Homo sapiens: one gene and its partners. The protein of the gene in region 1 interacts with the protein of each later gene in a pairwise test. Each region holds a gene or a part of one and is shown on either strand. Other genes may lie near its edges.

The links.
Region 2: the proteins of PLEKHB2 (region 1) and CDA interact in binary tests that used the Homo sapiens proteins (3 or more experiments, as listed by UniProt).
Region 3: the proteins of PLEKHB2 (region 1) and FOXD4L3 interact in binary tests that used the Homo sapiens proteins (3 or more experiments, as listed by UniProt).
Region 4: the proteins of PLEKHB2 (region 1) and UBAP2 interact in binary tests that used the Homo sapiens proteins (3 or more experiments, as listed by UniProt).

The regions. Positions count from the first base shown.
Region 1 is NC_000002.12:131,107,557-131,115,875, forward strand, and holds part of PLEKHB2 (pleckstrin homology domain-containing family B member 2), read left to right. Parts: intron 1-8,319. UniProt on the Homo sapiens protein: Involved in retrograde transport of recycling endosomes.
Region 2 is NC_000001.11:20,613,097-20,619,403, forward strand, and holds the end of CDA (cytidine deaminase), read left to right. Parts: intron 1-745; coding exon 746-803; intron 804-5,355; coding exon 5,356-5,472; 3' UTR 5,473-5,807; downstream 5,808-6,307. UniProt on the Homo sapiens protein: This enzyme scavenges exogenous and endogenous cytidine and 2'-deoxycytidine for UMP synthesis.
Region 3 is NC_000009.12:68,297,367-68,306,242, reverse strand, and holds FOXD4L3 (forkhead box protein D4-like 3), read right to left. Parts: upstream 3,377-8,876; 5' UTR 3,292-3,376; coding exon 2,038-3,291; 3' UTR 1,159-2,037; downstream 1-1,158. Other genes in the region: ZNG1C (zinc-regulated GTPase metalloprotein activator 1C), read right to left, coding at 6,656-6,762, 7,150-7,279, 8,426-8,491, 8,595-8,663.
Region 4 is NC_000009.12:34,045,119-34,053,360, forward strand, and holds the start of UBAP2 (ubiquitin-associated protein 2), read right to left. Parts: upstream 3,770-8,242; 5' UTR 3,707-3,769; intron 1-3,706. UniProt on the Homo sapiens protein: Recruits the ubiquitination machinery to RNA polymerase II for polyubiquitination, removal and degradation, when the transcription-coupled nucleotide excision repair (TC-NER) machinery fails to resolve DNA damage. May promote the degradation of ANXA2.

The DNA of each region.
Region 1 (8,319 bases):
AAAGAGAGCTGGAGAACTGGGATATCATGAGGAGTTGTAGACAGTTAAACCTGAATTCTAGCTTTTGGAACAAAATAGTAATGTAATTGTAGCAGTTCTCACTTTTTTATTTTTTATTTTTTTGAGACGGAGTTTCACTCCTGTTGCTTAGGCTGGAGTGCGATGGCGCAGTCTCGGCTCACTGCAACCTCCGCTTCCCGGGTTCAAGGGAGTCCCCTGCCTCTGCCCCCCAAATAGCTGGGATTACAGGCGTGCGCCACCATGCTCGGCTAATTTTTTGTATTTTTAATAGAGATGGGGTTTCACTATGTTGGTCAGGCTGGTCTCGAACTCCTGACCTCAGGTGATCCGCCTGCCTTGGCCTCCCAAAGTGTTGGGATTATAGGCGTGAGCCAACGCGCCTGGCCAATTCTCACTTTTGGACCATCTACTACAGGGCTGTTTGGACATACCTCCTTTAATTGTCACAGTAACCCCATGACGTAATTGGTTGTGCCTGGTCATACAGGTAAGAAAACTGAGGCTTAGAGAGGTTTAGAATTTTGCTGAAGGTCATACTAGTGAGTAGAAGGCAAAGTAGGCTTCAGGCTTAGAACTGTCAGATTCCAAAGGCAGTATTTTTTGTCCATCTGTTGTCTGTTTCGATTCAATGCTTTCAAAGAGATACAAATTCAAATTTAAAATAATTTAAATTGTTGAATATGGCTTACATTTTAAAGCTTTGCATAGGTTTTATTGGCATAAAAATAATGTTCTTTTGCAGCTAGTTTGCTGGTGTTTTATTCTCTAGAGACCAACAGCTAGGGCTTAGTGTTTATCTGATGAGTTTTAGTTTATGCATTCAGTTTTGCTCCAGGATATAAATAGTGAAATGTTGAATTAAGTTATGGAGTGGTGTGAAATTCAGCATGCTAAGGCAATCAAACAGAAGTCTTCTGAGCCATTTGAGAAGCAGCTTGATGTCCTTGTTCTTAGAACAGGGCTGTCCAATCTTTAGACTTTCTTGGGCCACATTGGAAGAAGGCCATACATAAAATACACTAACCCTAATGATAGCTGATGCACTAAAAAATAAAATTGCAAAAAAATCTCATAACGTTTTAAGAAAGTTTACAAATTTGTGTTGGGCTGCATTCAAAGCTGACCTGGGCTGGGGCCATGAGTTGGACAAGCTTGTTCTAGAATATTTTCGGCAAATTTTGGTAAGGGGGAAAATAAGTAATAGTAATAATAGTAGTAAATAGTAATAATTGCTGTCAAAGCAGCTACCATTTATCGAGTTCTAGTAACTGTGAGGCACCATGCCAACTACTTACATATTATTTCACCCAATTTTCCGAACATCCTGTCAAGTAGGTGGTGGGAATTTTCGTTTTATAGATCAGGCTTGGAAACGTGACTTGTCCGATTGAGTCAGGATCTGAACATAGGTCTTTTAACTCTAAAGCTTATACCCAAACACTGGGTTCTGTGAAATTTCAAAAGCATATGATAGGCTGACTGCAGTGGCTCATACCTGTAATCCCAGAACTTTGGGAGGCTGAGATGGAAGAATCCCTTGAGCCCAGGAGTTCGAGACCAGCTTGGGCAACATAGTGAAACCTCGTCTCTACAAAAACAAAACAAAATGTGATCAAAATCATACTTCATGATTTTTGGTTTCTAAAGATACTCTCTAAATTTCTCTCCCCAATTTAAAAACGAAAGCAGAGCACTGTTGGAAGGTTCAAATAGGTAGATTAATTTAGGTTGGTTTTTTTGTTTTGGTATAGTTGAAGATAATTCAGGTTATTGTTTACATGTTTACATTTATCAAAATAATACATGTACATAGATTGAAAGACCAAATAGGCTGAGCGTGGTGGCTCAAGCTTTTGGAGGCCAGCACTTTTGGAGGCTGAGGCGGGTGGATCCCCTGAGGTCAGGAGTTTGAGACCAGCCTGACCAACGTGGTAAAATCCCGTCTGTACTAAAAGTACAAAAATCAGCTGTGCGTGGTGGTGGGCGCCTGTAATCCCAGCTACTTGGGAGGCTGAGGCAGGAGAATCGCTTGAACCTGGAAGGCGATGGGTGCAGTGAGCCAAGATCGCGCCACTATACTCCAGCCTGGGCAACAAGAGCGAAACTCTGTCTCAAAACAAACAAACAAAAAAAACAACCAAATAGTGCTTTAAACCTTAGAATAAAAAAAAATATATCAATCTCTTGTCCACCCCCTTTTTAAACTATAGACAACTATTTTCACCTTTTTTTGGCACTTTTTAAAATAGTATTTTGGCTGGGTGTGGTGGCTCACACCTGTAATTCCAGCACTTTGGGATGCCAAGGCAAGTGGATCATGAGGTCAGGAGATCGAGACCATCCTGGCTGACACGGTGAAACCCTGTCTCTACTAAAAATACAAAAAAATTACCTGGGTGTGGTGGCGGTTGCCTGTAGTCCCAGCTATTCGGGAGGCTGAGGCAGGAGAATGGCATGAACCTGGGAGGTGGAGGTTGCAGAGAGCTGAGATCGCGCCACTGCCCTCCAGCCTGGGTGACAGAGTGAGACTCCGTCTCAAAAAAAAAAAATAGTATTTTATCTTTGTGGATATGGTAAAATTGCTATTGATTTACATGTAATCTTTTGACTTTTGATCATAGAAGACTTTTGCTGCCTTGTAAAACTCTTCAATCCACCAGTGAGTCAAAAACTTGTAGGAAATTTGTCAGTTACTTTTTTTCCTCCCCTGTAGTACTCGGTCCTGCTCCAGTCTGGACTGTTTTTTTTTTTTTTTTTCCTCCCCAGTCCTTCTGCACAGCTGCCTTTCTGGGAATTTCCTCCCCTGCCAGTTGAAGACCGAATCCTACTCTGTCGCCCAGGCTGGAGTGCAGTGACATGATCATTCATGGCTTACTGTGCTTCTACCTTCTGGGCTCAAGCGATCTTCCTACCTCAGTCTCCCGAGTAGGTGGGACTACAGGCGTGCACCACTATGTGCAGCTAACTTCTTATTTTTTTGTTGAGAATGTCTCACTGTGTTGCTGGGTTGGTCTCAAACTCCTGGGCTGAAGCGATTCTCCCACCTTGGCTTCCCAAAGTGTTGGGATTATGCTCAAGAGCCACCATGCCTGGCCTTGATTAATGATTTGACTGGGTGTGGAATTCTGGCTTGGAAATAATTTTCCGTTAGCATTTTGAAGGTATTGCTCTAGATGTCCTGTGTCTTGCTGATTGTTGATCCTTTATATATGCTTTTTTCTTTGGGAAGTTTTTAGGTTCTCTTCTTTGTCCTTGATGTTATGAAATTTCAGTCATCCTACCTATGGAGAATCTTTTAAAATTCATCATGCTGGACAGTCATTGGATCTTTTGAATCTAGAAATGTGTTATCCTGTTGCAGGAAATGGTTTTATAGTATTATTTCTCTGCTCTTTTCTCTGTGGTTTATTTATGAAATTCTCCTATAAGCAGAATTTTTTTTTTTGAGACGGAGTCTCGCTGTGATGCCCAGGCTGGAATGCAGTGGTGGGATCTCAGCTCACTGCAACCTCCGTCTCCCGGGTTCAAGTGATTCTCCTGCCTCAGCCTGCTCAGTAGCTGGGACTACAAGTGCGTGCCACCATGCCTGGCTAATTTTTGTATTTTTAGTAGAGATGGGGTTTCACCATACTGGCCAGGCTCGTCTTGAACTCCTGACCCCAAGTGATCTACCCACCTCAGCCTCCCAAAGTGCTGTGATTAACAGGTATGAGCCACTGTGCCCAGCCAGCAGAATATTTTATATTCCAGGCTCATCCTCTAATTTTTTTCCATCTCTTGGTCTTTTTTTTTTTTTTTTTTAGCTCTTCATTTCAGAGAGATTTCTTCCATCTTGATCTTTCCAACTCTTGTATTGAATTTTTAATTTTGGTTATTATTTTTAATTGAGAGCTCTGAATATTTCTTTTTATTCTTGTTTTTTTTTTTTTTGAGATGGAGTCTCACTCCAGTCACCCAGGCTGGAGTGCAGTGGCACTATCTCGGCTCACTGCAAGCTCCGCCTCCCGGGTTCACGCCATTCTCCTGCCTCAGCCTCCTGAGTAGCTGGGACTACAGGAGCCTGCCACCACGCCCAACTAATTTTTGTATTTTTAGTAGAGACGGGGTTTCACCATGTTGGCCAGGCTGGTCTCGAACTCCTGACCTCAAGTGATCTACTCTCCTCGGCCTCCTAAAGTGTTGGGATTATAGGCGTGAGCCACTGTGGCCAGCTGTAAAGTAATATTTTTAAAGTTTTCTTTTGTACCCAGCATTGTCTCTGATTCTTGAGGTTTTTTTCTTGAAAATTTTATTTTCTTTAATCTCTATCTTTTATGGTCTAGATTTTTCTCCAGTGTCTGATTGTGGTACTGTGAAATGTTTATTTTGTCTTTGACCTCATTTCCTGCCTTACAACTCCTATTTAATACAATCCTTAAAAATCTCCAAAATGATGTCTTTTTGTATGCTAATGATTGATTGATGGCCTGCAGACTCCCTTCAGGATGGGAGCTGGTCATCTGAAACACCTATGCGACTTTAGAGGGTTGGAACTTTCATGTCTGCCCCCCAACCTTCCAGGAAGGAGAGAGGGGTTCAAGGTGATGTTGATCACCAGTGGCTGTTGGTTTAATCAATCATGCTAATGTAATGAGGCCTCCATAAAAACCCAAAAGGATTGGGTTTGGGGAGCCTCCAGAATAGCCGAACACCTGGAGGTTCCTGGAGGGAGGGTGGTGTGCCTGGAGAGGCCTGAACACTAACACCTTGCCCTATACATCTCTTCATCTGTGTCCTTTGTAATACCCTTTATAATAAACTGGTAAATATAAGTCATTGTTTACCTGAATTTTGTGAGCTGCTCTAGCAAATTAATCAAACACAGGGAGATGGGGGAATTCTAATAGACCTAAAGAAAGAAACTAAAGCAAAAATTACTATAAATAGAGAGTTTATTTAGGCCAGATTTGAGGACAGCAACCTGGGAAGCATAGATTCAAGTTGCTCTGAATATATGCTTTGAGTAGCAACAGTTAGAAGTGGGATTTTAAAGGGCAAAAATAGGGGCAGTTTCTAAGTTGAACATAAACTATTGGTTGGCTGTATATTGTTCTTTGTACCACACATTCCAGGAACATGAAGAAAATGATTGAGGGTCACATTGTGTAACTTGTAGTAACAGTCTTGGTAATTTATCAGCTTGTCTGGAAACTACAGGAAAGGGAAGATTAAAAAAACCCCAAGTCCCTTTAAACAGTTAACCCTGAGCGTGGCTGGGGCTGTGGTAACTAAAGACCCATTTTCTAAATTTTGCCGGCTTTATGTTCTTCAGATTGCTCTGAGCTACTTTTCTTTCTCACTGACTTAAAGCTAGTTGATCACATGTTCCAGAGGCCCTGACTTGTGGCTGGTGTCTGAAGGGTGGGCAGTCTTGTGGGACTGAGCCCTCAACCTGTGGGATCTGATGCTATCTCCAGGTAGATAGTGTGACAGTTGAATTGCAGGACACCTAGTTGGTGTTCGCTGAAGAATTTTTTTTTTTTTTTGAGACCGGGTCTCACTCCTGCCCAGGTTGGAATGTAGTGGTGTGATCACGGCTCACTGCAACCTCCCCATCCCAGGCTCAAGTGGTCCTCTTACCTCAGCCCCCCAGTAGCTGGGACTACAGGTGTGTGCCACCATGCCCCGCTGATTTTTGTATGGATGAGGTTTCACCATGTTGCCTAGGCTAGTCTCAAACTCCTGAGCTCAAGTGGTCCCCTGACCTTCTCCTCCTAAAATGTTGGGATTACAGATGCGCAACACTGTGCATGGGCCTGCTGCATAATTGATTTCTTGCTTGGTATGTGGGGAGAAACCCTCACACATTTGGTCACAGAAGTCTTCTATGTTGATTGTTGTGACGTGAGAGCAGAGGAAAAACAGTATTTTTTTCTACTCAGACTGATGATACTTGCTCTGTATTCCTATTTAAGAGAGGTACTGAAAAGCTGATTGGAAGTCTGTGTGTTTGCTTCAAGTCTGTCTCTTGGTGAGCTTCTCTGGAGGGTGTTAGGCAAAGTTTGGCTTTTTCATTACAGAACACCCAGTTGTCAGTATCAGTGAGCCTTTCCTCTTGGGACTATGCCTTTGCTCTGAGCTAGAGTCTGAGAAGTAAGGAAGAAGATGGAGAATTTGACTTTCACGGACTATATTCTTCTAAGTGTGGCCTGCGACTTTAAGCTGTGTGTAGTGTGGCCACGCCCAGTCTCCAGAGGCATCATCTTCAGGATCAGGGAGGGTCCCTGTCTGCTTGGGTAGGGTGCCTAGTGACCCCTTTGAAGACTTTCCATTAATTCTTCTGATTTCTCCCCACCTCTAGAATTCTCTCTTACCCCCAATTTCTGAGTCTGTTTTTATGTGGCAGGAGTTGGCTTGCTGTGTTTTGGCTTCTGTTAGCACATAACAAAGTAGAGGTGGCCATATTTTATGTTAGTTGACACTTGTCTGTTTGTCTTAGAACTTTCAAAATGTTGTGTCTCGTCTGCTTTTGTCTGCTGCTGTTCTCTGTGGATTTATGCCTTGTTTTCTCCTTAACTCTCATTTTAGTTGCATTTCAGGAGGGAGTGGCCCAGGCTGGAGTGCAGTGGCGTGATCTCAGCTCACTGCAAGCTCCGCCTCCTGGGTTCGCACCATTCTCCTGCCTCAGCCTCCCGAGTAGCTGGGACTACAGGCGCCCGCCCCCACGCCCGGCTAATTTTTGTATTTTTAGTAGAGACGGGGTTTCATCGTGTTAGCCAGGATGGTCTCCATCTCCTGACCTCGTGATCCACCCTCCTCAGCCTCCCAAAGTGCTGGGATTACAGGCGTGAGCCATGGCCCATCCCTGCCCTGGAGACATTTTGCCCATTGTCTTGGTGATTAACATTGGACTTCTTGTTACTTATGCAAATTTCTGCAGCAGGCTTGAATTTCTCCCCAGAAAATGGGTTTTTCTTTTCTGTTGCATCATCAGTTGGCAAATTTTCCAAACTTTTATGCTCTGCTTCTTCTTGAAGGCTTTGCTGCTTAGAAATTTCTTTTACTAGATACCCTAAATCATCTCTCTCAAGTTCAAACTTCCACAGATCTCTAGGACAGGGACAAAATACCACCAGTCTCTTTACATAACAATAGTGACCTTTACTCCAGTTCCCAACTAGTTCCTCATCTCCATCTGAGACCAGTGCAGCCTGGACCTTATTGTCCATATCACTATCAGCATTTTGGTCAAAGCCACTCAGCAAGTCTCTAGGAAGTTCCAAACTTTCCCACATCTTTCTGTCTTCTTCTGAGCCCTCCAAACTGTTCCAACCTCTGCCTTTTACCTGTTTCCAAAGTTGCTTCCACATTTTCAGTTATCTTTTCAGTAGCATTCCGCTGTACTGGTACCAGTTTACTGTATTAGTCTGTTCTCACGCTGCTAATAAAGATATACCCAAGACTGGGTGATTTATAAAGGAAGGAGGTTTAGTTGACTCACAGTTCCACATGGCTGGGGAGTTCTCACAATCATGGTGGAAGGCAAATGAGGAACAAAGTCATGTCTTACATGGTGGCAGGCAAGAGAACTTGTGCGGGGAACTCCCATTTATAAAACTGTCAGATCTTGTGAGACTTATTCACTACCATGAGAACAGTATGGGGGAAACTGTCCCCATGATTCAGTTATCTCCACCTGGCCTCACTGTTGACATGTGGGGATTATTACAATTCAAGGTGAGATTTGGGTAGGAATAAAGCCAAACCATTATCAGAAAGTATGTCTTTTTTTTTTTTTTTTTTTTTTTTTTTTTTTGAGATGGAGTCTGGCTCTTTTGCCAGGCTAGAGTGCAGTGGCATGATCTTGACTCACTGCAGTCTCCGCCTCCCGGGATCAAGTGATTCTTCTGCCTCAGCCTCCCGAGTAGCTGGGACTACAGGCATGCGCCACCATGCCCAGCTAATTTTTAATATTTTTAGTAGAGACGGGGTTTCACCATATTGGCCAGGATGGTCTCGATCTCTTGATCTCGTGATCCACCTGCCTCAGTCTCCCAAAATGCCGGGATTACAGGCGTGAGCTACTGCGCCCTCCAGAAGGTATGTCTTTTCTTTAACACATTCTACTGTAATATATCTCATTTTAATCATCTTATACCCAGGGTACCTTTCAGCCTTAGTTGGTTGTAATAGACTGTAATTTTTACTTTGAATTTTACACTTGTGTCACAATTTAGCCATTAGATTCTCTTTCTTCAGCTGAGTGGCTTCTTGATGCTTTCTGAAGGCACTCTTGAAAGCATCTGTGCTTTTTGATAA
Region 2 (6,307 bases), on another chromosome or scaffold:
ACTCTACACTTCCTCCAAGGACCAGGACACATGCCTCCTCCTCCATAAAATCTTCCTTCTCAGTCCACAGGCAGGGATGAGCTCCCTCATACTGTGTGTTCCTTCTGCAATTTTTTTTTTTTTTGAGAAGGATTTTCATTCTTGTTGCCCAGGCTGGGGTGCTATGGCACGGTCTTGGCTCACTGCAACCTTTGCCTCCCGGATTCAAGCGATTCTTCTGCCTCAGCCTCCTGAGTAGCTGGGAGCTACAGGCGCCCACCACCAAGCCTGGGTAATTTTTGTATTTTTAGTAAAGACGGTGTTTTACCACGTTGGCCAGGCTGGTCTCGAACTCCTGCCCTCAGGTGATCCACCCACCTCGGCCTCCCAAAGTGCTGGGATTACAGGCGTGAGCTACCAAGCCCAGCTGCATTTTGTTTAACATGATAACTCAGCTGGTTTTTTACATAACAGAGACAAATTCTCTTTGACCTTTGTATTCCCGGGTGTGGGTGATGGTAAGTGCTCAGTAAACGTTTATGGATGGCACTAATGAAAGTCCTGCCCATGGCCCTGCCTTGTGGCAGTGTGGAAAGCCACCACGTGGCCTTCTCAGCCTTCAGGACACAGTGGATCTGTGAATCAGGAACTGCCTGATGGGGTATGACCCAAATCAGGAACAGACCGAGTCTCAGGGCCTGAATCTTAGCAATTGTCCTCAGTCCTTGGGAGAGACTAATTTGAGTTTGATTCTTTGCTTCCCCAGTGACATGCAAGATGATTTTATCTCTCCATGTGGGGCCTGCAGGCAAGTCATGAGAGAGGTAAGCAGCTTCTCTTGCTGTCTGGAATGCAAATATCTTCCCTGTCGCAGGCTATGGGAGCCACGCCAAGTTGCAGGCATGGCAGGCATGGCAGGCGTGGAGACACAGCTACTGTCCTGTTTGCTTGGTTGGCTGACTTCTAAGGCCTCCCTACGCTTGCATGAGTCACTGGAAATTATTCCTTCATTTAACAAATACTTACCGAGTGAGTGTCTGCTTTGTGCCAGGCCCTGAGGTAGCTCTGGGGAGGCACAGGGAAAAGATGGGCCAGGCCCTGCCCTCACAGAGCTCATAGGCTAATGCAGGAGACAGATGATAAACAAGGAGCAAAATAAATAAACAAACAGTGGCGTTTCTGAGTCAAGAGGGCTATAGAGGAAAACAAAATGCAGAAAAAAAAAAGGAGTCCAGTGACAAACGGGCAAACAGGGGACACTGCAGATTGGGGTCAGCAAACAACAGCCCTTGGGCCAAATCCAGCCTGCTGCTTGTATTTGTAAATAAAGTTTTATGGGTATACAGCCATGGCCATTCATTCACCTATTGTCCATAGCCACTTTGCCCTGACACAGCAGAGGTGAGCCATTACGACAAAGGCCACATGGCCTCTAAACCTAAGATATTTACTGTCTGGTCCTTGACAGAAAAAGGTTTGCCAACCCCTGCTTTAGATATCCAGGAAGGCCCTCTTTTTGAGCATGACATTTGAGCAGAAATATAAATAATGAGGAAAAAAATGAGACAGACAAAGGTCAAAAAAGGAGATTCAGAACCAGCAAGTTCAGACCCTTGGTGAATTTGAGAAGAGGCAAGAAGGCCACGAGGGCTAGAGAGCTAGGGCCTGGTAGGTGGAAGGAAAGCAATGGGATTGAAGTCAGAGGGGTGGGCAGAGGCCAGATCACATGGGGCCTGGCCATGGAACGAAGGGTACATTTTATTCCAAGAATAAAGGAAACTGAAGTGTACACTTTTTTTTTTTTGAGACGGAGTCTCACTCTGTCACCCAGGCTGGAGTGCAGTGGTAGAGTCTCAGCTCACTGCAACCTCCGCCTCCTGGGTTCAAGCAATTCTCCTGCCTCAGCCTCCCGAGTAGCTGGGACTACAGGCGCCAGCTACCATGCCCGGCTAATTTTTGTATTTTTAGTAGAGACTGGGTTTCACCATGTTGGCCAGGATGGTCTTGAACTCCTGACCTTGTTATCTGCCCACCTCGGCCTCCCAAAGTGCTGGGATTACAGGCGTGAGCCACCGCGCCCAGCCTGGAGTGTACACTTAAACATGGTTAAAATGGCAAATCTTACATTATATATATTTTATCACATTATATACATTGGGAAAAAAGGGAATAAAGGTAAGCCATTGGATATTTTCAAGAAGAAACTTGAAGGACTTTTTATAAAAGTCCTCTTGATGGAAGGCTGCAATTTCTTCAACTCTAAAAACAAAACGGTAAGCCAGGTATGGTGGCTCAGCCTGTAATCCCAGCAATTAGGGAGGCAGAGGCAGGAGGATCGCTTGGGTCCAGGAGTTCGAGACCTGCCTGGGCAACATAGCGAGACCCTGTTCTCCACAAAAAAAAAAAAAAAGGAATAAAACAAAACAAAAAAATGAAAACGAAGGGATAGTTTAGATCATGGGTTCTTAATCCAGGCTCAGGGGAAGGTTTTCATGTTTATATGTACGTTTGGGGAAAGGGGAATGTCAGTAACTATTGTGGATTCTCAAAGAGATCTGTGTCCTCTAGAGTCCCAAAAGATTAGAGAATCCCACAGGCCCTGAGCTCCAGCATAATATCAAGAGCCCCTCGAAATACGGCATCTTGTGGGCATGATGGCTTACACCTGTAAGCCCTGCACTTTGGGAGACTGAGGCAGGAGGATCACCTTAGCCCAGGAATTCAAAACCAGCCTGGGCCACATAGTAAAACCCGGTCCCTTCAAACAATTTAAAAATTAGCAAGGCATAGTGTGCACGCCTGTGGTCCTAGCTGCTCCAGAGGCTGAGGTAGGAGGATCACTAGAGCCTAGGAGGTCAAGGCTGCAGTGAGCTGTGATCAAGCCACTGCACTCCTGCCTGGGTGACAGAGCGAGATCCGGTCTCAAAAATAAATACATACCTACAGCATCTTGTTTAATCCCCTCCCCAAGACTGAGTGAAATGCATGTCGTTATTCCCATTTCCCAGTGACCACTCTGAGGCTCAGAGGAGTAAAATGACTTACTGAAGGGCCCCCTGCCAGGCGGTGACATATGGGTATCCATGGCCCATCAGGCTGACTCTGAAGCCCGTGCTCCTCACGGCTGCCTCTCTGTCTTTGTGGTTCTGTAAGTTGGACAAAATTATTTTCAACCATGGAGGAAACATAATGGTACTTTGGCATGTGGATGCTGCTTGTACCGTGGGAGTTTCTGCTTTTGGAGTTGTGTTTTGGGAGAAAGGGGGTTGTTTTAGCTTTGTTTTTGTGCCGTGGGGTTTCAAAGCATCTGGGGATGCAGACACTTCCATCTTCCTCCTGCTTCCTGCCAGGAGTGCAAATCAGACACATTTCCCAAATCCAAAAACATACCACCGGGAAAGCAGTGAATTTACACGGTGGAATTTGTCTCACTTGAGAGGGGCAGAAATAGCTGCCCTGCACGGTGGAAATGTCGAAGGTCATATAAGGAAGCCACAACAGGGCGCCAAGTCCCTGGCTCCCAAGGCCCCGACGTGGTCCAATTGCTCAGTGCTGTTTTCTCCAAACAGATTGGATGTTGGCAAACGAGAGAAGGCAAATGAAAAAGCTGAAGGAGGCAGGGGGGAAACTGAAACCAAATGCAAATGATAAGAGATGAGGCGTTGGGGCCAGGGACCTGACACGTAAACTCGCCCTCGGCTCAACTTTTGTCTGTACCTACCCTTAGGCACAGCCTGTCAAGCAGAAAAATTTCCTTCCTTAAAACATTAATTCTAAAAAAGCCAGAAGATTGAGTGTGCCCGGGAATAACTTGGTGATTCAGAGAGAAGTGTGGAAGAACAGGAGGCTGCAGACCTGAGCAGTCACTGGCTACCAACATAATCAATAAGAATGGCATCTATTAATTGAACACCTACTATGTGCATAGAGATGCTTTACATGAATCATCTCTGCATCTCAGAATACCTGGCCAGAAAGAGCTTAGGTCTGTTGACCCCACCTCCAGGGCTCTTGTCATGACACCGCTGCTGATTAACCTCTTGCCTACCATCCTGCATTCTCCCATCCCTAAAACCATTCCATGGACCAAGACACTGAGTGAGCCCCAGAAAGTTATCATTTTCCCAAGGTCACACAGCAAACAAACAGTGCTCCTCATAGTATAGGAGAAAGATCAAGAGACAAATTTTTCTTTGCTGACTTTACTCTGCTAAGCCTCAGTTTCCTCATCAGTAAAATGGGCATCATGATAGCACCTACCTCACAGGGTAGATTATGAAACCACGCATGTGCAGTATCTATGTGGTGTGGTTTGGCTGTGTCCCCACTCAAATCTCATCTTGAATTGTAGCTCCCATAATTCCCACATGTCATGGGAGGGACCTGGTGGGAGGCAATTGAATCATGGGGGCGGGTCTTTCCCACGCTGTTCTCGTGATAGTGAATAAGTCTCATGAGATCTGATGGTTTTATAAATGGGGGTTCCCTCACACAAGTCCTCTCTTGCCTGTTGCCAGGTAAGACATCCCTTTGCTCTTCCTTCCTCTTCCGCCATGGTTGTGAGGCTTCCCCAGCCATGTGGAACTGTGAGTCCATTAAACCTCCTTTTTTATTTTATTTTATTTTTTTTTTTTTTTGAGACCGAGTCTCGCTCTATGGCCAAGGCTGGACTGCAGTGGTGTGATCTTGGCTCACTGCAACCTCTGCCTCCCGGGTTCCAGAGATTCTCCTGCCTCAAGCCTTCTGAGTAGCTGGGATTACATGTGCTTGCCACCACGCCTGGCTAATTTTTGTATTTTTAGGAGAGATGAAGTTTCACCATGTTGGCCAGGCTCATCTCGAACTCCTGACCTCAGGAGATCCGCCTGCCTCGGCCTCCCAAAAGTGCTGGGAGTACAGGCGTGCGCCACAACACCCGGCCTAAACCTCTTTTCTTTATAAATTACCCGGTCTCAAGTATGTCTTTATTAGCAGCTTGAGAACAGACTAATACACTGAGTATATGTAGCAGGCTTGCAGCTTCTCCTGGTGTGAGGTGTAAAGGGGATACTGAAGGGAAGCGGGTGTTAGTTGTCATTTGTCATAGCAGAAGGAGGTTCCAGGGGTTAGCTGTTGCTCTTATAAAGCCCTGGGTGAGTCTTGAATGGTGCCTGTTCACGATGTACCATGCACTGTTCAGTTTCACAGCATTCTTTCGTTTCCTCCTCCCTGCAGCACTATGATCCAGGTACAATTATGGTCATTCCCCTTTTACAGATGAGAAAATCAAGGTAAAGAGAGGAACATTAGACAGTGGCAGAGTCAGACTCAGACCCAGTCCGTCTCAGCCCCCTCAGCCACGCTGTGTCTCTCACGCCAGCTTTGCCTCTTTTCCAGTTTGGCACCAACTGGCCCGTGTACATGACCAAGCCGGATGGTACGTATATTGTCATGACGGTCCAGGAGCTGCTGCCCTCCTCCTTTGGGCCTGAGGACCTGCAGAAGACCCAGTGACAGCCAGAGAATGCCCACTGCCTGTAACAGCCACCTGGAGAACTTCATAAAGATGTCTCACAGCCCTGGGGACACCTGCCCAGTGGGCCCCAGCCCTACAGGGACTGGGCAAAGATGATGTTTCCAGATTACACTCCAGCCTGAGTCAGCACCCCTCCTAGCAACCTGCCTTGGGACTTAGAACACCGCCGCCCCCTGCCCCACCTTTCCTTTCCTTCCTGTGGGCCCTCTTTCAAAGTCCAGCCTAGTCTGGACTGCTTCCCCATCAGCCTTCCCAAGGTTCTATCCTGTTCCGAGCAACTTTTCTAATTATAAACATCACAGAACATCCTGGATCAAAGCGTGTGTCTTGCTCTGTCTCTATCCTTGCTTGCAGCTCTTAGGAGGGACAGCATGATTTGTCTTTATAGGAAGAGCTGGACTCTTTCTGTTCGGAGAGGAAATGGGTACCTTGGAACCATGGACCTTATGGTGTGGAGAGCTGAGGTTTTAGGCAACTTGCCCCAGCGTTCTCTAAACGGGCAGCTCCCCTGGGCTGGACCTAACTGCCAATAACCATCCTAGAGTGTGTTTTTGTCTCATCATAGACCTGAGCACCAGGAGACTCCAGAGTATAAAGGGTCAAGCACGGTTTGTCTAGACAGTGTAACAAAGGGTTTTCTCAGTAGCTACTGTATGTCAGGTAATTTGTGTGCATCATTTTAAGTTTAACATGCTCCACAGTTCTGTGAGGAGGGTGTGGAGATGCCCCCTTTTCACAGATGAGAGCACTGGGCTTTGGAGAAGTTGAATACCCTGCTCTAGGACAATGGCAAACCTCAGAACAGAATCCAGG
Region 3 (8,876 bases), on another chromosome or scaffold:
GGATATGGTTTAACATTAGGCAAAAATTAGGAGCTTGGAGGCGGTTCCGGGAAGGGGTCTGACCCTCAGTCACCCATGTTCGTAGCTGTGTTGGTCTGCCCTCGGGCAAGAGAAGGAAGATAATTGGGAGGGTGCCAAGAAAGCCTAGAGAAAGTCCCTTCTGGGTTCAGCGGCCGGCTGTAGCCGCTCTCCCAGGACGTTTGTTGACAATAAATGAATGAAGGTCGGCCTGGAGACGTTTTCGCACAACGGACAGAGGGGAGTTGGAATGTAAACCAGCGAGAACCTGGCATGAAATAGGACCCCTCTATTCTCAGTTTGTTTCCAAACTCTTAGACTGCCCCAGCCCTGCCGGATTTGCTAAAAGTGGTCTATTTTGGACGCTGGTGGTGCTATGGGGCTGACGGCTACCTGTGCAAAGAAGAGGGAAGAATTGGAAGCTGGGGTCTGGGCAGCTACCAAAGGTGGGGCTTGGGAACTTTTCAGAACGTCCTCAGAACCGCAGGAGCCAAGAGGAAATCTCCCGTAGGGGATCTCAGGTAGGGCGTGCCAAGAAATTCCAAGAGACGGGATGGAGAAGAGAAGCCGGAGAAAAATCGGCCAATTAGACTCCTGTAAAAATGTGTGTCTCCATGTTTGTCCTCCCTCCTGAAATAAGAAATTCATAGCTGGGGGTGGGGAGTAGATGGGGGCTGGGGGAAAAACTTTCTCACATTCACGGAGCAGCTTCCCTCAAAGCGGCACGGAATCGGGAACCCCACTCAGGACAGGGGAAAACGGCCAAGTTCCTAGAAATTTGTTTTCTTTGTGGGGAGCAATTCATGATGGGCGTTCTTGTCTGGTTTCCCCCCACTCCGTCCCCTGACGCCGAGTAACACTTAAACCTTTCTAGTTGCAAAGTCTTTTCAGAGTTGTTTTTTTTTTTAAGAAATAAGTTTTGAAAATTCTAGTGCTTAAAATATATATATATATATATATATATAATTTATAGCCTTTTATTTTCTCTGAGTACATGTTGGCCACTACATTCCAAATTTATCTCAAATGGTTTTCCAGCTTGTTGAGGGGTGATGAAAAATAAATGGAGAATATATTTACATGCCCTCCTATTCTTTTCTTTTAGAAGTCTCATAAATAGTAAATTTCCTATTTTAAAAGCCAGGACATTTTCAACCTCAAATATTTGGAATTTTTAAAGGCCATATTAAAATGGATTACTTCTGCTATCTATAATAAATATGAATTGTGAAAATAAATTGTTTGAGGGAAAATAACGTAGGTTTTAAAAAGTTCCATTTAGAAAGGGAAGAATGAGATGTAATAGAAAATAAACGATGTAGTGTAGTGACTTAGCATTTTATTTCGTCTATATAACTAGGCTTAATTTTAACACCTTAATTTTAACATTAAAGATGGCACGTCAGACACACAGATAAGAAATCAATGTTCTGAAATTAATATCCTACTTACATTAAACATCCCTATCAGGAAGACACAGAGAGTAGAAGCATTTTGCACTAGACTTAGGAATAATACTTCCAGCTCCAAGGAAGTGAAGAAGGGGGAACATGTTTGGCATCGGAGGCTGTGTTTTTGTTTGCTTGCTTGTTTTTCTTTTAATGCCAGAACAAAATACCCCACTCACGTTCATAGTACCCCAGGAAATGCGCAAATCGGGACAGCCATAGAAGCCACAACCGAAGGCAAGAAAAGATGACTTGACGCCCTGCGAAGGTTACGTTCAGGTGGTTTTTAGAGGAACGTAATCCAGCTGTTTCTTTCTAACCATTTTGCAGCGAACAGAAGTTCGTGTTTGCTCTCCAGCGGGATTCAGATGCACACGCCCAGTATGGGCCGCGCAAGGTGGAGTGAGCAGCTGCGGGTCGCTCCCCACTCCCACCTGGCTCTAGGAGGGCCCTGCGGAGTTGGCCAGGGAACTGGGCGTGGGCGATACTAAAAAAACTGGTGAGGTCCCCTCTCCGCCCAAAGGGGCAGCCAGCGATGTCAGCCTAGAGCCCTCTGCCACTGCCTGATACCTCAGCAGGGCCGACGAGGCCGACAGGTGCCCGCCCAGCACCGCGCCCTTGGTGGGAGCGCAGCCGTTGGCGCAGTCCTCCTCCTGATGCTGCTGCTATTGCTGCAAAATTGTCCGAGCAGCGGCGGCGGCGGACACTTGCAGCAAAGGGGCAGCGGTCTGGGGATGCAACAGGCTTGATGGTCGCTGGAGCAGGTGGCAGTAGCTCCACGCGGTCGGGGACAAATTCTGCGCAGCCCCTGTACCCGCTCCCCTGACCCCTTGCATAATACTCTCAATGCTGAAAGAGATGCATCCGCCTCCCGGTGGCGACGCCAGACCCTTGCCCTCCTCCCAAGGCTGAGGACCAAGTGAGGGCTGCAGCACGGGAAGGGTGCCGGGGTCGCCAGGGCCGCGCCTTCTGCTTTCTTCGGTGCCCCGGCATAGACGGGGGCCGAGAGCAGTAGGTAGCGAAGAGGATGCGGGTGCAGCAGAGCGTAAGGGCGTCTCCCGGGGGCGGTGTTGGGGTAGGCCCCCGGGACTGGCTGCGGCGGGGCAGGGGCCCCAAGCAGAGGGCCTGGGCGGGGGTTGTGCAGGGCGGCGTGTGCAGCAGGTAGAGGGAAGGGGTGGGGCAGGTGGGCTCCCGGGGTCAGTTGGTGGCGCTTGAAACGCTTCCTACGCCGGAGAAAGCTGCCATTGTCGAACATGTCTTGGGAGGCGGGGTCCAGGCTCCAGTAGTTGCCCTTGCCTGGGTGGCCCGGCTCGCGGGGGATCTTAACGAAGCAGTCGTTCAGCGAGAGGTTGTGGCGGATGCTGTTCTGCCAGGCGGGGAACTTGCGGCGGTAGTAGGGGAAGCGGCCACTAATGAAGGCGCAGATGCCGCTGAGCGTGAGGCGCTTGTGCGGGTTTTGCAGGATGGCCATGGTGATGAGCGCGATGTACGAGTAGGGGGGCTTTGCCGGCTGCCGGGCATCTTCAGAGGCCGCCGCAGACCTTGGCGGTGCCCTGAACTTGGTGCCAAACTCTGAGGGGTCGCTCGGGCCGCCGCCGCCCTCGATGTGCTCTCGGGGAAGCGCAACCCCGCCCCACCGGGCCACCTGCAGCCCCGGCTGGAGCGACTGCTCTAGGAACTGCTGGCTCGCCGCCTCCTCCTCGTCTTCCACCTCGTCTTCATCTTCCTCCTCTCCCAGGACATCGATTTTACCGTCTTCCCCATCGGAGTCCCGGAGGCTGCGCTGCGGTGTGGAGCGAAGGCGCTCAGCTCTTGGCAGGTTCATGGAGGAGCAGGTGCTTCAGTCGCAGGGGATGTGGCGGCCGATCACCTGGCCTGGGGCGGGCTGAGCTGGAAGCCTGGGATGAATGTTGCAAGAAGCAGGAACGCTAGTGGTTACCCTTTGGGATGTTTTCGTCTGCTTGTTTCTACTCCTTTGCAACAACGTCCGGCAAAGATGCCTTTGCCTTTTATAAAAGCTTCTTCAAGACCATGTGTGGTGGACTCCCCCCTTTATAACCCTTCTTCCCCTACCTCGGAGCGGTGCCACTTCCTCCTAACGTAGTCCAGGGATGATGGTCTTCTGGGCAAACACCCGTCCGGAGAAAAGCCCAGCCCCCTCCTCCTCGCACCCACCTGCCACCAAGGAAGATGCTCTACTCATCCGGTGCAGCCAGACAGTTGGCAAGCCTTTGCACGGGTTCTGTTAAGGCGCATTTAAACCCGCGCAAATAAAAGCGAGGTAGGAAAGTATGATACTCAACATTCTATGACCACCTCAACATGCAGCCTTCCCGCCTGGAGAAAAGAAATGGTGGGGCAGGAGGCTGAAATGTACACGGTTGTTTGTAAAGGAATGTGTAACCGTAAAAGTATGTTTTTGTGTTTCACAGCTGGTAATCACCCATTTTCATTGGTAGAGTCTGTCCTTACCCAGAATGGTGAGCTGAATTATATTTAAGGTTCTGACAATATTCCCAGGCTTCAGGGGGGTGTTGCTTTGCTCCTTCTACCTTCCTTCCCACCTCCTCAAGATGCTCTCCCTGACTCAAATTTTCAGAAAAGGCTCAAATGTCCCAGCACTAAATTGTGTAAGTTTACTCAGGGAAGGCAGGAGAGCTCACACGGAGTCCTCTGTCCCCTTGTAGCAATGGTTCTCCAATTTCTTTGAATATTTAACCACAGAAATACATTTTATATCACAATCTCACACATACAGACATAATACATAACTAAGATGGGTTTCACGAAACAATATACTTACACTATAGTGATCACTGATATTTCCTTTTAAAAAAAAATGGCCATAACCAACTAAATTGATTTCACACATACCAGTATGGGCCCAGTTTGAAAAATCCTGTTCTTACAAAGTGGCCCCACATACAAGAAATGCACCCACTCTATAAGGGCTTCTCTCTCTCCCTTTCCTCCTTCCTTTCTTCATCCTTTATAACCAATTCATTTTTAGAGACAGGGTCTATGTTGCGCAGGCTGGCTTTGAATTCCTGGGCTCAAGTGATCCTCCCGCCTCAGCCTCCTGAGTAGGTGGGACTACAGGCGTGCCACTATGCCTGGCTCTGGCTCTTCATTCTTTTTTTTTTTTTTTTTTTTTTTTTTTTTTTTGAGACGGAGTCGCTCTGTCGCCCAGGCTGGAGTGCAGTGGGGCGATCTCAGCTCACTGCAAGCTCCGCCTCCTGGGTTCACGCCATTCTCCTGCCTCAGCCTCCCAAGTAGATGGGACTACAGGCGCTCGCCACCACGCCTGGCTAATTTTTTGTATTTTTAGTAGAGACGGGGTTTCACCGTGTTAGCCAGGATGGTCTCGATGTCCTGACCTCATGATCCGCTTGCCTCAGCCTCCCAAAGTGCTGGGATTACCGGCGTGAGCCGCCATGCCCAGCCTCTTCATTCTTTCAGAAATGTCAACATTAAGTGCTTTTACTGTAATAAAACTTGGGACTTCAATGAGGCAAGAAGGGGCTGCAGTGTTGCCTTTAAATCAGTGGGTCCTCATTCACTATCTGCACTGGGGAGGGGCAATATGACAGCACAACTGTTCATCTCACTCGCTCCACATCCTTAGAAATAACACGATTTTTAGATTGGCTTCATGAAAATTAGCTCAGAGACTAAAGTAGCACTACAGAGGAATAAAAAAAATTTGTTATATAAATAAGAATCTTATTAAAATACTAAGTAAGATACTATGCCACGGTATATATTCATAATTTAAAACCCACCTACTTGGGAAAACTTTGAGGTGCCATCTAATAAAAATGCAGCATGAAAGAATATTATGCCCTTGATAGTCACATAGTGTCTATAATTATGACAATGAATGTTCAGTGAGAAATCAAACGCCAACTGCAAGGGCAAAATATAATAAAAAATAGCTTAAAGTAGCTAGTGCCTTCAGGATAAAATCTGGAAAAGAGCTTTCTTGCTGATCTTTTTTTGAAACTTTGCTGCTCCTGAAGTTTTTACCCTTTAAGGCTCCTCAGTTTATATGAAGCTTGGAGGACAAATAACAGACAGGTTTGAGCCTAACAGATTTGTTTGAATCCCAAATTTACCAATGACTGCTTGTGTGACCTACTAAACTAAGCTCCAGGAGGGCCAGGCCAGGTGTCTTATTCAACCACATAATCCCAGACACCTCCTCCCCAGCGCCCCCCAGCATGTGAGGCAAATTTCCTCCATCAGCATAGGAATCGGATGACCTGGGAAAGGGAGTATTGTTAGTTTTCCTAGAGCCAGCTTCAATAGGGATTGGGGTTATTTAAAAATACAGGAGAAAAATAAGGAGGCGCTCAAAAACAAAACACAAAACCCACATTGATGGGGGTATGTCAAAGGGGGGAACAGGAGATAACGGAAAGAGTTCCCAATGGTCAAAGCTGGGATAATTTGAGCAACAAAATAAAGTAGTATTAAATTGTAACCCAAAGTATAAAATATTCATGTGTCCACACTGATAAACATAAATGATCGAACTAATAAAGCGAAAGGGACAACTGTCCCTCGCAGAAGAATTTCAATTAATTATGTAGACCACTCCCAAGAAAGTACACTACAACTCCCCATTCCTTTAGTGTGGGCTGTGCATAGTGATTTCCTTCCAAAGAGCACAGTATGAAATGGGGGAAAAGAGTAACTTTACAATGGAGAAACCTGACAAACACTCCTTCAGCCAGGTGATCAGGTCGTCAACATCAACATCAATAACAGTCATAACCTTTTATTTCATGTCATAAAATGGTGACACTTACTTGTGTTAAAAAAATTTAATAACAATGTAATCATTATATCTCTGCAATCAGCTGAAGTTCTAAGAAAAAATGACAATGTTGAAAGTTGTATCATCATTATTATAAACTTTCATGTTCAGTATATGTAAACTCCAAAGCCAATTTCAAAAGATATTTTTGTGAAATACCATTCTTTAAAAAAAAGGATATTATATATAATTGTATGAATGTTAAATGTTTTACAGTACTGATTTGCTACATTTTATGTATGCTGTAAAACAAATACCATTTTAAAGTATATTGGAATTCGTAACTAAAGTAATAAATAAATGCTTGAAATATACCCAGTAGAAACTTATTTTTATTATCCAATCCTTTTGATAAGAAATGCCTCTAGTGTTATGTACAAACTTGATCTTCTTTGAAATGTGTTGTCCACTGCTTTTCTGTTTCTGTCACAGTAGCTATAAACAGCTGTTTAAGGATATCCTTATCTAAATTTCTGCCTGCAAACAAAACAAAATATGACGTGATTACATTATGCTTATTAAAATGACACAGTTCACCTATCAATTCCAGTTCATTAAATGCTTTATGGTGTTTAAAAATTTACAAAAAGAATAGTAATTGAGTGATTCCATCTTTAACTTTCCAGGTCAGTACATCAAAGTCACATTGGTCCTTGGATTAACCACTTTTCTAAAATTGAAGAAGAACAAAAGTCCTAACAAGCTTTTACGAACGTTGTAATGTGACAAAGATGAAACATTGACCACAAGCTTATTTAGTTTTAAAAGAGGACCTGAATGGTTAATCTGTTTAAGTGGCACATGATATCCCTTTCAAATATATTTTTCACTTTGTTTCAAAACTGTGAATCCTTTGAGACTTACCAATGAGGACCAATCGATTTGTTCTCTCAGTGTCATCCTTCCAGCTCACTGGAGTCTCCTCCAGATCATAGAGCTCATGGACACCCTGGACAATCACTTGTTGTGATTTGTCTTTGATTGACACCAATCCCTGCTCAAAGGAGAATTGACTGAACATTAATCAGCCTCAGTTCAAACTTAAAAGCAGAAATAGAGCATCAATGTTAATGGATTAATTACTGATATTCACTTAAAAAATACAAACTCTTAAGCTGAGAAAATTACTTAATTCCAATTATTTGTGAATTACAAGAAGTTTCTTAATGTTTTTAATTTTCAAAAAAGGTTTCTGTGTATTGATTTTTTTTTGAACAATCCCCTTTTCTAATGATAAAGTTAATACATATATTAGGATGGTTTTTCAGTGTTATTTATCACAACCAAAACCTGAAACAAAATGATGAAATATGTATCATATCCTATTGATTAAAGATTTTATATAATGTTTCACAGTTTTAGTGGGAAAAGTTGAGAAGTTAAAGGAGTTTTGTTATATTAAATAATTTGTTTTAGAAATGGGTTGCAATCAATGAACAATGTTGAAATAAAGAAAAACTATTATATTTATCTGGATATGAGCTCAATTTATCTGAATATGAGCTCATTGTGTATTGATTTGCAGAAATGAGAAACGAATTATCTGATAAACTGGCTCCTATGGGGATGAAATTAATTTATTTGAAATAATATTCTTAATTTACCAAAAACTTTGTGCACACTTGTGAACACACAAGAGTAGACACTCAACTGACTGGTTAAGCATACACTTTAGAATCACTGCTTCCTAGAAGAAATACCTTTCATGACTTAAATACCCAAATATCAAGTAATGTGAGTGGGTTTCTAAATACAGAACAAGAATTCTTCTAGTCCTTTGTAACTTTGTTTAGAGTACAACAAATGTTTAGTGTCTGCTAAATGCATCAGGAAGCATAATGTTCAGCAGAAGTGAGATTTGCAACATTATTTCTCTGTACTTGGGAACAGAGAGCAGAAGGTAACATTTCAAAGCACACAGGTTTGTTCTAGCTGCAACCCTAAAGAAAGTTGTGCAAATAAATCAAGCCTTATGCAGTGATTTCCAAAGCTCCTTTTCAGTCATGAAAATAATAAAGAAAAATGAAAGTAGACAAAGATGATTTGTACTAAAACCAGTGTTTCTGTTTAAAACCAAATATAGTTTTTATAACAGCCAAGAAAAGGACTTTGTCCAAAAGTCTGCAACAGTAAACTGTACCTTCAGCCTTATGACCTCCATGCAGTGATTGTCCTTGTTTCTCACATTCTTTTCCCACAGAAGATTCTGTATCAAGTGACATATTTTAATAAGACCAACCATCGCTAATAGCAACAACTATGTAACAAAACCATTGATAAATCATTAATCAGTTAAAAATTGCATTCACCTGAATAAACATATTAAGATGTTCTTCCTTTGCATTTCCTGGTACTTCAAATGTGATTGTAACAATACTCTGTAAATCAAGGGAAATAATAATAATTCTTTATAGTAATATCAATGTTTTTTAAATCACAAATTTTAAGATGAAAGGAACATATTCATGGAATTTTACATTGCTTAAACCATATATATTACGTATTATACTTTCCTCAGCATATGTGCTGTTTTTTTGGAATTAGCAACTCCATTTCCTACATTCTGCACAGGTACCAATGGATTTAGTATT
Region 4 (8,242 bases), on another chromosome or scaffold:
GGGCGGATCACGAGGTTAGGAGATCAAGACCATCTGGCTAACACTGTGAAACCCCGTCTCTAATAAAAATACAAAAAATTAGCCGGGCGTGGCGGCAGGCGCCAGTAGTCCCAGGTACTCGGGAGGCTGAGGCAGGAAAATGGCATGAACCCAGAAGGCGGAGCTTGAAGTGAGCCGAGATTGCACCACTGCACTCCAATTTGGGCAACAGTGAGACTGTCTTCAAAAAAAAAAAAGGGTAGAAAAAAATAAAAATTAAAAAAAAAATTTTTTTTTGAGACGGAGTCTTGCTCCATCCAGGCTGGATGAAGTCCAATGGCACATGGCTCACAGCAACCTCCACCTCCCAGGTTCAAGCAATTCTACCGCCTCAGCCTCTGGAGCAGCTGGGACTACAGGCACGCGCCACCACACCAGGCTCATTTTTGTATTTTTAGTAGAGACGGGGTTTCACCATGTTGGTTAGGTTAGTCTCGAACTCCCGACCTCGTGACCCGCCCGCCTCCGCCTCCCAAAGTGCTGGGATTACAGACATGAGCCACAGTGCCCAGTCACAAAAGAAAATTTTTAAGGAGCATCTTTGAGAAACTTAAAAAATGTCAAGTAAACTCAGCAGGAAATATCAGCATAAGTGGTTTACATTAAAATTGTAAAAACTAATCTGATAAATTTGATTCTTTGAGTTAGTAAAAAAAGGATCCTATTCCTAAATACTTGATAGTTGGGGCAAAATTACTTCAAAATCTACCACAAAGATTACATGGTGATATTCCCTACATGTCCTCCCTCTCTTTGCCTTCCTTCAGGTTGTATCTCCACTCTTTGGAAAAAACGGCTGCTTCTAAAATCTATCAGAGATCTACTAACTTACCAGTCAACACCATGGGTACCATAACACTTAGCTTTTAAGAACGCTCCATTTACTCAAAATAACAACTAAGAGCTCCATTTACTCAAAATAACAACTAAGAATGAACGGGTATTTGCTGACATACAGGTTTCTCACAAGGAAAAATAAAGACAGATGTGCTTAAGGGCAGAGAACTTTACAATCTGTAAATGCCTGCAGACTGCTTCTTTAGAGCAGGCATTAACCCTTGCTAATATACTTAACCACCCCCACCCCCCAACCCCACAAAGTGTCTTATTAACAAAGGAAATCTTAACAATAAATCATCATTTAAAAAAAAAAAAAAGAGGACTGGGAAATCAACAATTCAAAGCTAACATTTTAGAAGTAAAGGCTTCATGCCGGGCGGGGTGGCTCACGCCTGCAATCCCAGCACTTTGGGAGGCAGGCGGATCACGGGGTCAGGAGATCAAGACCATCCCGGCTAACACAGTGAAACCCCATCTCTACTGAAAAATACAAAAAATTAGCCGGGCGTGGTGGTGGGTGCCTGTAGTGCCAGCTACTCGGGAGGCTGAGCCAGGAGAATGGCGTGAACCCGGGAGGCGGAGCTTGCAGTGAGCCGAGATCAGGCCACTGCACTCCAGCCTGGGCGACAGAACAAGACTCCATCTCAAAAAAAAAAAAAAAAAAAAAAAAAAAAAGAAGGCTTCACTTCAGACCACTCCAAACCTTCAAGAAAGGTTTGTACTTTCTACACATATTTTATACTTAAGAGGGTAGATACCGGGACCAGTTCCCATCACAATACAAGTACATATTGAAATAAACCTATTAGTCTACATGTTCTCACACCATCACACCATTTCTCCCCATACAATAAAAGTCACTCAGGCTAATACTAAGAGAGACACTCCTGGTGATCACTACATAGACTGCACTAGTAACCAGGAAAGGGAAGCAGAGGTGTTATTGTTGTTCCAATATAGTTCTAAAGGCAACTCCATGTGACTACTGCTGATCCAGCCCACATTTAAAGGGAGGACAGAGGAAACCAGAGCAGCAGGAAACAGGCAAGAGAGGCAATTACCACAACCCTTTCCCATGGCCTCATTCTCTCCCATGCCACCACTTTCGGGCATATTTCAATCACAACAAAAACCTTCCTTCTCTGAAAGGTTTCATAATTATTGAGGGTGAGAGGCAACAGGGAAGCAAATGGGGGAAATCAGCGCTGTGGGAAAATCTCTCGTCACACGTATCAACTAGCCATAAGTAGGAAAATCAGGAGTATGCTGGCAGCAAGCAAAAGGGCAGTTTGGGAAACTAATCACTTCTGCCTAATGATAAGAGAAGCCTTCAAAGCAATGGAAGGACAACCCTAGCGAAGGGGCTCCACAGGTGAGTGTATTGAAGGAAACTATCATCTCCAGGGAGTGGAATACATTCCCTTTCCTGAGGTAAAAGGGGAACACACCAATGTAGGATACGGGAGAGCTTAGGTATCATGTTCAACTTCCTTCCACCTTTCACAAACTGGCACTAAAACGGATACACAATTCACAGTGAAAAGTGAGGAATGCAATAACTAGTCGCATACCCCTTGTTGAAAAAAGTGCTGTCACAACGGAAGAGGAATATAAGAACTGGGTTCACCCAAGAAATTATATGCCCTTCAAATAAAAGATAATCTTTGGATACCTTATGGAGACCTGAAAAAACCCTCAACTAGCTGAGCACCGTGGTGCACACTGTAATCCCAGATACTCAGGAGGCTGAGGTGAAAGAATCGCTTAAACCCAGGAGCTGGAGGCCAGCCTGGGCAACATATGGAGACCATATCTCTAAAATTAATAGTAATTTTTTAAAATCTCTCAACTGTTAGGATACACTGGTGCTGTAGAAAGACAATAAGCCTAAATACTGGCAAACCATATACCTTCCTTGAATGTGAGGTAAAAACAATATCCAATAGAAGTGGTAGTAAATGACTGGATTACATCAAACAGGAAATAACAGTAATAATGATGGGATCAACCCCTAAAGCGAGCAAGCATTAGAGACCAGAGTGGTGACAGTTGAGATGCGTGGGCAACTAATTAGACTAAAAACTCAGGGGAAAATGTGGAAAAGCCGAGTGGGAAAGTGATTCAGAGGCAAACAACTGAGTTGTAATGCACCAATGAAAGAATAACATTTTGAGTATGTATTATTAACAGAGAGAGCTTTGCCGTTTACAAAGCGCTCAAAAACCTACATTAAATAATGAACTGTGATATAACCAGACTACAGGAACGGCGGGTGTGGAGGAAAACTGAGTCCCAATTGAGACCAATGCCCTACAGAATTGAAAAGAAGTAGAACTGAACTGTGACTCCGGGTAAGCCAGGAAAGGTTAGAGAGCGCATAAGTTGGGGCTATAACAGGGCCAGTCCCAAGACTAGCTACGGGCGTGAAAGCGGAAAGGTGATGAGATGGGACCGACAGCGTGGCGGGGAAGCTCCAGTCTACTGGCAGGCACCGAGGTGGGAGAGAAAACCACACCCTCCAGGGCAGAAACCCGAAAGGGGGGAGGGGAGGCACCCCTGGGGCTGGGTGGGGCCCAGCCGACCTGGACGGGGGAAAGTAGGAAGAAGCACAGGGCAACGTGAGGGGAAGAGGAAGGAGGGAGCCCGGGCCTGGACGTAGAGGGACCGTGGACCTGGCGAGTGAAGCTCGGCCCGGTCCTCACGGGTGGGCGCCGGGGCAGTCTGCAGGCGGTGGGGTTTCAGACGAGCTGAACCCAGAATTAGAAAGCACACGCTGCAGCGCTCAGGGCCCTGGAAGAGGGAAGGAGAGGGAGAGGATGGCAATTACCGCTGCTGCTCTCGGAGGACCCAAGACCCGCTGCCGCCGCCGCCGCTCGTTACCTGCCAATGTGCCTCTTACAAAGCGGCGGCGGCGGCACAGGCTGCCCAACCCGTCACGTGACCTCGCGTCACGGGCGAAGGAGGAGCCACAACACGTCGCTCGTGCGCGGCTTCAGAGTCAGCCTAGGCGGCGCGCGGCCTCTTCCAGCCACCACCTCCACCCCAACCCCGCGAAGCCAACCGCGTGGAGGTGGGGACCACAGAAAGGAACAAATAAGGGAGACTTGATAATATGTATTGTACTCGGAGTCATCAGGAGAGTATTACCCACCGCATACAAGGTGCCCACAACTGCAGCTCGTCGTCGCGCCGTGATGACCTCACAAAGCACCACAGGTTACTCCCCTGTGGCCGCCCTGTGCTCATCACGTGATGTGGTCCAACCACTCAGGGCAAGCCTGGCCTCCCAAATGTTGCACGAGGGGACCACGACTCCCAACATGCTGCACAGCCAAGGCGACCCCTACCGCAGCCTTTCTCCAGCGGGCTTCTAGACGAACCCCCTAGAGACCTTAGAGCCGAGGGAAGGCCGGGACGGAAAGCGGACTAAGCTGGCTTGAAGGACTAATACCATTGGATGCCGCCCGCCATGTGGCGGAGCGTGGTGCCTGCTGGGAGGTGTAGTCCTGGCGGGGGGTGGGGTTCCGCTCCCACGTTCCTGGGCTCGCTCTGCGCCCTGCCCCCTGCGCGGGAAAACGCCAACGGCTAGCAGCGAGAGCCTCGGCAAGGCGGAAGGTGCGCCCACTTTTAGTCTTTTTCAGTGCGGTTTTACTTTTGCCCTCCCAAGCCCCTTCTGGGTGAAAAGACTAGAATCTACTGAACGCCTACTCCAAGTCAGCCGTTTATTTCTGTTATATCATATAATCAACTCCTTGAGTCCAGGATTTTCCCTATTTAAGGATTTAAAAAAAGAACCTTAGAGTTGTTTGTTGACCGAAGAGACCCAGGTTTTCTGTCTTTAGAAAATTAATGACCTCCTCTCAATAGGATCTGACCTGTTGTCAACTCCAAGAATTACGAATAAATAAGATGATGGTTTATAATTGTAGCATGGTGTTTTAAAGTATTTTCCATTTACTGGCCTGTTTGGATGTGAGGGCGTTCTGGCTATCTTGTCACCCCATAGATCGCCAGGGCTGATTCGGCTGATCTGGCTGTCTAGGCGGGTGGCCCCTTCCTCCCGCACCTCTCCATGTGCGTCCCTCCCGAAGCTGCATATTCGGTCGAAAAGGAGGAGCATCCCCCATAGAAGAGGACAAGTCAAGGATATAGGAGTAGCTGCACGCCCGTGTTAACAAGCTCTCAAGGTCCTCTAAACAAGCTCTCAAGGTCTACTTACTGGCCTGTTTTATCCCAAGCTAGTTACATACAAGGACTTTGCAGTCCCGGCATGCCTTATCTCAATTGGAGCTTTCCTCTGTAATAACACTTCACCGGCTTGTGAAAATTAAATGAGATTATGTAAAATGCCTGCTTGACACATAATAAACCCTCAGTAAGTATCAGTAATCATTTTCACACTCTACCCATCGGGCCCAAAAGGTCTAAGTAAGGTAGAAAGGGGAAATTAGCTTATACTGAACTTTGTACAGGGCACTATGCTAATTACTAATTTGCTAGTTATTAAGTAAAACAATTGACATCTTAAACAGCCCTATCTAGTTCAAATAAAGCCTTTGTTATTCATCTGAATTAAAGAATGCTGCCGGGCGTGGTGGCTCACACCTGTAATCTCAGCACTTTGGGAGCCGGAGGAGGGCGGATCACAAGATACGGAGTTTGAGACCAGCCTGACCAACACGGTGAAACCCCGTCTCTGTTAAAAATACAAAAAAATGTCCGGGCGCGGTGGCTCACGCCTGTAATCCCAACACTTTGGGAGGCCAAGGCGGGCCGATCACGAGGTCAGGAGATCGAGACCATCCTGGCTAACACGGTGAAACCCAGTCTCTACTAAAAATACAAAAAAATTAGCCGGGCGTGGTGGCGGGCGCCTGTAGTCCCAGCTACTCGGGAGGCTGAGGCAGGAGAATGGCGTGCGGAGTTTGCAGTGGGTCGAGATCGCGCCACTGCACTCCAGCCTGAGCGACAGAGCAAGACTCCGTCTCAAAAAAAAAAAAAAAAAATAGCCTGGCGTGGTGGCACACGCCTGTAATCCCAGCTACTCAGGAGGCTGAGGTAGGAGAATCACTTGAACACAGGAGGTGGAGGTTGCAGTGAGCCAAGATAGCACCACTGCACTCCAGGCTGTTCGACAGAGCAAGACTCTGTCTCAAACAAAAAAAAAAACAAAGAATGCTTAAACTGTGCCTTTAACAAACAGAACTGGGCCGGGCGTGATGGCTCACGCATGTAATCCCAGCACTTTGGGAGGCCAAGGTGGGTGGATCACCTGAGGTCAGGAGTTTGTGACCAGCCTGGCCAACATGGTGAAACCCTGTCTTTACTAAAAAAATACAAAAAATTAGCCGGGCGTGGTGGCGGGCGCCTGTAATCCCAGCTACTTGGGAAGCTGAGGCAGGAGAATCACTTGAACCCAGGAGGCAGAGGTTGTCGTGATCCAAAATTGTGCCACTGCACTCCAGCCTGGGAGGCAGAGTGAGACTCCATCTCAAAAAAAAAAAAACAAAAAAAAAACAGAACTTATCATCATCACCATTCATGTGTAGGTGTATCTTATCTCACCTCTTTTGACAATGAGCTAGGATTGTGTCTTGTCTGTTCGTCTTCCTCCTGTTTGCCCTGCTGCTTTATAGAAATGTGTGGGAGCATCAGAGATAAAAACCACCCTTGAGAGTCAAAGACTTAATGGACAGATCAGGCCAGGCATGGTGGCTCATGCCTGTAATCCCAACACTTTGGGAGGCCAAGGCGGGCGGATCACCTGAGGTCCAGAGTTCAAGACCAGCCTGGCCAACATGGTGAAACCCCGTCTCTACTAAAAATACAAAAATTAGCCAGGCATGGTGGCGGGTGCCTGTCATCCCAGCTACCCGGGAGGCTGAGGCAGGAGAATCACTTGAACCTGGAAGGCGGAGGTTGCAGTAAGCTGAGATCATGCCATTGCCCTCCAGCCTGGGTGACAAGCGCAAAAGTCCGCCTCAAAAAGAAAAAAAATGACAGATCAGGAGAAAAGGATTCTGAAAGGAATATACAAACTTGATAACAGTGGCTGGCTCTGAGGGGTGGGAAAGAGGTTTGTGATTGGGGTTGCTGGCCCAAAGGGACTGCAGTCTAACGTTTTCGCTTTTTACTTGGAGAAGGCACTGGTATATAACTTACGTAATTATAAGATTAACTTGGCCCAGCGCGGTGGCCAAGCACTTTGGGAGGCCAAGGTAGGCGGATCACAAGGTCAAGAGATTGAGACCATCCTGGCCAACATGGTGAAACCCCGTCTCTACTAAAAATACAAAAACTAGCTAGGTGTGGTGGTGCACCTGTGGTGCGCACCTGTAGTCCCAGCTACTCCAGAGGCTGAGGCAGGGGAATCACCTGAACCCGGGAGTCGGAGGTTGCAGTGAGCCAAGATCGAGCCAGTGCACTCCAGCCTGGCAACAGAGCAAGATTCCTCTCAAAAAAAAAAAAAGAAGATTAACTTTATGAGGTCGGGCGCAGTGGCTCACATCCGTAATCCCAGCACTTTGTGAGGCCGAGGCAGGTGGATCACTTGAAGTCGGGAGTTCAAGACCAGCCTGACCAACATGGAGAAGGCCTGTCTCTACTAAAAACCCAAAATTAGCCTGGCATGGTAGTGTATGCCTGTAATCCTAGCTACTCGGGAGGCTGAGGCAGGAGAATTGCTTGAACCTGGGAGGCGGAGGTTGCAGTGAGCTGAGATCGTACCATTGCACTCCAGCCTGAGCAACAAGAGCAAAATTCTGTCTCAAAAAAAAGGAAAAAAAAAGATTAGCTTTATGAAAAGGAAGACCAGAGACCACGTGTTAGCTCTGTGACCCTGTACAAGCTGTGTCACTTCTCCAGGCCTCAATTTCTTGTTAAATTCATTTTCAAAAACATCTGCCTTTTCTGTGTCAGGGACACTGTGCTGGTTACTTTTATTACATTATCATTTATTAAGCAAGAAGTCCTACCAAGAACCTAGGATCAGAGAAAATAAGAACATCAAAGCCCTAAAACCTCACTGATTACTGTTATTGGGACCTGGATGCAACAGAACTAGCCTTTCCCTCCCCGTCCCTCACACAAAGGATATCATTCACCTTATCCACCCAGCTTGACTCTGAGACATTGACTCTGAAACTAAAACTAATTTCACATCCTGTGACTGCAAAGGACATCCCCATCTTTTTTTTTTTTTTTTTTTTTGAGACAGAGTCTCACTCTGTCGCCCATGCTGGAGTGCAGTGGCGCGATCTCGGCTCGCGGCAAGCTCCGCCTCCCGGATTCACGCCTTTCTCCTGCCTCCGCCTCCCAAGTAGCTGGGACTACAGGCTCCCGCCACCATGCTCGGCTAATTGTT